Linked DNA regions of Homo sapiens: region 1 is linked to region 2. Evidence: fine-mapped expression QTL. Tissue or cell type: blood mononuclear cells. Region 2 holds a variant in brackets; the other region holds the start of a gene. All regions are shown on one strand. Distances are between the middles of the regions.

Evidence for each region. PIP is the estimated chance that this variant, and not a neighbour inherited with it, causes the effect.
Region 1: it holds the start of RGMA, and the variant in region 2 is fine-mapped to the expression of RGMA in blood mononuclear cells (TOPMed, PIP above 0.99).

The regions. Positions count from the first base shown.
Region 1 is chr15:93,088,015-93,090,672 of GRCh38, forward strand. RGMA (repulsive guidance molecule BMP co-receptor a) reads right to left here and starts at 1,197. Exons shown (of 4, transcript NM_020211.3): 1 at 905-1,197. The coding sequence starts at 918. It overlaps LOC101927025 (a long non-coding RNA gene), which reads left to right and starts at 1,200. Exons shown (of 5, transcript XR_007064769.1): 1 at 1,200-1,263.
Region 2 is chr15:93,177,945-93,180,789 of GRCh38, forward strand. No RefSeq gene overlaps it. Among named protein-coding and RNA genes, the nearest start is that of RGMA, 90 kb to the left of the region's middle. RefSeq lists enhancers at 1,992-2,530, 2,531-2,845. The variant CG/C (reference allele first, on the strand shown) is at 1,282.

The sequences.
Region 1 (2,658 bases), 90 kb before region 2:
CTTCCGCTAGATGGCGCTACTTCCCCTACTCCGCCCGCGAGACACCCAATTTATAAAATAAATACAACCCAACACCTCCCAAAACCACACCACATAATAGCAGCTCACAGGCTCCCATTAGAAATCTCAATTTGGGAGAACTGATTCTACCTCCGAGCAAGTCTAATACAATTACATTAATAAGACGCAATCCCGAATTGCACCCGAGCGTCCCCCACACCCGCCCTCCCATTGAATACACCTGTCCCCCATGCCCGGGCTTGTACCCTGGGTTGAGCTGCGGCGCGAGCCGGCGCTGAATCGTCGCCGTGCCCTCCCGTCCACTTAGGAAAGCCGGGGCGGCTTGGCAATGGGCATCCTCGGCCCTCAATCCAAGGTCCGCACCTTCCCGTACGCCGGCGCGCCGAGGCAAAGGGCCGCCGGGACGCGAGCCCACGCGGTGCACTGCGCCGACATCCCCGAGGGCAGGAGATGGCCAGGCAGCTCCGCAGCCGGGCGTCGAGCGGGAGGCGGGGGCCCGGGCGGCGCGGGCCAATGGGGGTTCACGGCGGGACAGTCGGGTGGCCGGCTCCGTCCGGGGCTCCGCGAGCCGGGCTGAGGGAAGGAGCTCCCAGCCCGCACACGGTGTAAGGGACGTGTGCCGGGTCTGCCCAACCACGCGCGCTGGCGGCTGCCCGGGGGAGAGTATTTTAGGAAAAAAGAACAAACACCAAACCACAAAAACTTTCCTGCTGCCAACAGCTAAAGCGATAGAGGCGCAGCAAAGCTCCAAATGTGGGCAAGATGGGAGCAAGATGAGACGCGGGGCTAAGGAAGACCAAAGCAGCGCCGTGGCCCCGGCATGTGTCGGCGGCGCCTCGGAGATGTCAGAGCCGGGTCTGCCCGGCTCCCGACCCGCGCTTACCTTGGCGGCTGCATGAGCCCCTGCGGCCCGCGGGGGGTGGCGCTGGCGGGGCTGCGGGAGAAGAGGGGGTGTCGGGGCGCCGCTCGTCTGCCCCGGGGCAAGGTGGGAGGGGCTCCGCTGGCGCTGGTCCCCGCCGCCCCGGCCGGCTCAGCAGCGGCCCGGGGAGCGCCTCCTGCTCCCGGGCTGCATGCCTGCGAGCGCCTGGCGGAGCCGGCCCGGGAGCGAACGGCCAGTGCTTCCCCGGCCCAGCGGCTCGGGCGGCGCAGCCAGCGCTCGGGAGACAACTGCAGAGTGGGGCGGCCGGGACCAGCCCCCTCCCTCGCCCGGCCCCCGCCCGCCGCCGAGCGCGGCGTCGCGAGGTTCGTTTGCGCGCCGAGGGGAGGGGGCGGGCCGGGCGCCCGGGCCGCGGGCGGGGGGCGCGCGCGGGCGGGGCCGGCAGGGAGGGGCGGGGAGGAGCGGGGTGCGGGCTCGCGTTGCCCCGCCCCGCCGCGGCCCCACCCTCCCGCATCAGCACCGGCTGGGTGGGTGCGGAGTGCGCCAGCGGCCAAGTCAAGACTCCTTGAATGCTCAGGTTAGGGGGCGCGGGCGGCAAGTGCGGCGACTCCCCGGGGCGCCTCCAACTTTCCGAATCGCCCGCAGGGTTGCGGTGGAGCGCACGGTGTCCTTCAGTTAGGCGGTGGTCGAGGGGAGTTCCTCTGAGATTTCTGGAGAAGGCGGTTACATCCAAGACAAATGCTGTTGCGCTCTGCGGAGACGCACCTTTGTTCTATAGAGATTTTGTTGTTGTTTAAGAATCTTCCTGAAAAAACTAATACATATGTATTACATGCTAACACACGCATACATTCTTGCGTAGAATTGTACATAACTCAGGAGTGTCTAGAGTGAAAAGACCGTATCGCACTCCCTCCCACGGCCGCGGCTCTCCCACGGCCGCGGCTCCCCCGCGGTAACCTTCGGTCAGGGTGTGCTCTGCCGCGGTTCTTTCCAGTCTCTGCGCTTTTACATGCACACGCACAGATTGCGAGTGGAATCTCCTGGGCTTTTCAAAAGAATGTTTTCAACATTAAGCGCATGCACACAGTGGCTTGAACACGGCCACGTCGGGAGCAGTAAATCCCCAGAGGCTCCGGGAGCCCAGGGAAGGACCCTTGCTGTGAAACAGCAAAGAGCCACCCAATCGCCATGTGTGGATCTGAAACCCCAGCTGGAGCGTGAAGTCGGTCTGGTTACACAGCTCAGGCCCAAATTAGCACTGCACGGTTAGAGAGATTTGCCAGTACATTCTAGACAGGGTTATGACCTTCCCCTTCTTACAGAACAAACTGTCTTGAATTTTGATATGATGAGAACTCTGGATTTGCAAAATGAAAAGGTATCGTCCGCATTAAAACACGATCGTTATTTATGCGTGTGGTCTTCAGAGATGTGGTTTTAACTCAATATTCTCCGTTTTATTTGTCAAGTGTATTTGTATAATCTATAGCTGGGATATAAATAAAATTAAGTGGTTTAGCAGGAAGGGATTGGGGATGGGTTTCTAGAATTAGCTCTGACCTTCGGCAAGTCATCTAGCTCTGCTGGGCCTCAGTTTCCTCATCTATGAATAGTAGGGTGTGTGTGTGTGTGTGTGTGTGTGTGTGTGTGTGTGTGTGTGTGGTCTTCCTGCCCTGACATTCTGTGCCCTGACATTCAGTGAATAACCAATTTCTTCATCTTTCATAGCTCAGCTCCAACATCTTCCCCACCCTCTA
Region 2 (2,845 bases):
TCACGCCATTCTCCTGCCTCAGCCTCCCAAGTAGCTGGGACTACAGGCACCCGCCACCACGCCTGGCTAATTTTTTTGTATTTTTTTGGTACAGACGGGGTTTCACCGTTTTAGCCAGGATGGTCTTGATCTCCTGACCTCATGATCCGCCCACCTTGGCCTCCCAAAGTGCTGGGATTACAAGCATGAGCCACGGAGCCCAGTGAAACTCTTTTGAGTTTCTGATGAGCCTTTCCAAAGGAGGCAATCAGATATGCATTTATCTCGGCGAGCAGAGGGATGACTTTGAGTTCTGTCTGTCATTTGTCCAGAAGGAAATTCCTTGTGAGGGAGGTATGTAGCTTTTGAATCTTAGTAGCCATCTTTTTTTTTTAGCAATAGAATGGGAGGCAGGTTTGCCCTAAGCAGTTCCCAGCTTGACTTTATCCTTTGGCTTAGTGATTTTGGGGTCCCAATATTTATTTTCCTTTCACAATGTTTAGAGGATTTAATGAAAAATCAAACTTGTGTCTGTAGCATCTTTCCCAGTCACCAGCCCCTCCCGGAGCCAGCTTGGCGCAACAGGAGTGGACAGGGACAGCCTCTGGGCCGTATTGCCCTGTAGTCTATGGAGCCGCCCTGCTGGAGGGGCTGGGCTGGGCAGCCTCTGCTGGCTGGGGATGGTTTGGGAGTTTTACTCCAAGGCCTGCCACAGAAGGGCAGCTGTCATCCTCTCCCGTGGCTGGAGACATTTAGGCTGCAGCCCTTGGAAGGCTGTGAAATGGACACGACCCTGTGCTGAGTTTCCACCCTGCACAAACATCTTTGGAAGCAGCGCTCGTTTAATTTTCCATGAGTCCTGAGAAGAAGATGTTGCCATCAGCCCTTTGATTTTGCAGATGGCGATCCTGAGACTCAGAGAGGTTAAGCAACTTTCCTATGTCACACAGCTGGTTAGGAACTGAGCTGGGATTTAAACCCAAAGGTCTTCAAAGGTGGGACCCTTTGTGCCAGCAGGAACCTGTTAGGGGAACACTGTGGGAGAGACAGTAAGTAGATTGCACTGGGTGGGGGGCGTTGGGGAAGGAGGGAGTTGAGGGGGAAGGGAGGGAGTATGTGCAGCGGGGAATAGTTATGCAGCCCCCACCTTGATCATATAACAGCAAGAAAGTGTCCCAAGACCCAAGAAGGAAGTTAGCCTAGATCTTATTTTTCAACACAATCTAACAGTGACTTTGTTAAGAAACAGAAATTCAGGGCCTAAGAGGTTGTTGGAACAATGCCAGGTTTCGCTTCCTTTCC[CG/C]GGCAGCTCTCCTGCGACGACCTTTGACTTGGGAGGGGCAGGTCGTCCATGAGCACGAGTGACCGGGTCCCTGATGCTTTCCTCGTGGTTACAGCCTCGCCTGCAGGTTCGGGCACTGTGGGGTGGGGCGGGAACGTGGCTGGCACTATGAAGTATCCACCTTTCTGCGGGCTCTGCCGCCTCATCCCTCCAACAGCAAGCCAGGGCTGGTGGCTGTACTGTTCCCTCGTCCCTCACCTAGCATCCCCTTTTTCCAGAGGACGAAAGGTAGGGGAAGCTAAGAAATGATGGCACAGGATTTGAACTCAGGACTATCTGGGCTCACAGCTGATGACGATTCTATACCACCTTACTGTCCTAGGCAGGGCAGGAGCCCCAGACAGGATGGGTAGCCTTTCTGAAGTTAAAATAGTAAAAGGCAAAAAGAGAGCCCTTACCCGAGCATGCAGCTATAAAGGAGCACACAGTTCTCCTCTGGCCCCTCTCCGAGGATGGGTTCTCCGCTTCTGCGAGGCCAGACGCACCGCAGGCATCTGCCTTTGATTAGAACGGGCAGACAGGAAACATACCTGCGGTCCCGGGCCTCTCTCACACTCCAGAAATGCCATTCACAGACAGGGAAGAGGGAGAAAGGATGGGAGGAAGGGAGGAAGGGAAGGAGAACAATCAACAGCTACATGGGAGCGTGCTGGGAGGTAGGATCACCGCGGGAGACAGAAATGGGCCTCAGCCGCAGGTCAGGGTGTGGACACGGAGGCAGCCAGGCCTGATCTGCTGGGGGAACCACACTGGGCCGGGCGTGGAGAGGAGGTTTGCCGTGTGTGCAGCAGCTTGCAGGGAGCCAGCTGCCGAGAGCTGGGGCTGCTGCTTCTGAGCTGAAAGGGAAAGAAGGGTACATCTTTCAGAGCCACTCAGTCCCCCAATCATAGTGCCTGGCTGCGACCTCCCACTGGGCCCATCACAAGTCCTCATGGTTGGGGACGTCAGTGACCTGCAACAGGGTCAGGGAAGAACATCCTGGCCAGGAGTGAGCTAAGGAAGAGATGCACCACAGAGCCCTGGTAAATGCCTGGGAGTGAGAGCCTTACACTCACCATCTCTTTCCTCTCTGCCTGTTGTAGTTAAAAACCACGCTCTTGACTTGCTGATGCTTTGAGCTGCTTGTTGCGGGTGGAGGTGGCTTCCCACGGCTTCTTGCACAGTGTTGGCCCTGACCCACCGTCCCCCAGGCAGGGGGAGACTGCTGTGTTCAAGGGGAGTCCTGGGTGCATGCGGAACAGAATAGGGAGTCCCCACTGGGGCAGGCGCTGGCAGCTCTTCACCGTGTCAGCTCACTCAGCCCTCAGGTCGTCCTATCCTCAGGTGTGACCTGCAATGTACAGGTGCAGAAATGGAGAAGACCTGTGCTGAGTCCCAGAATGACACTGGGCCTGTGGAGGCTGCCAGGAGAGACACTGCCAGGTTCCCACGGCGGAGACACTGGCACTACAGCCCAGAGAGGAGGACACTTTATTAACTTGTCACATCGAGCAAAGGCACTGGTCTCTCCAGTCTCTTGCTGTG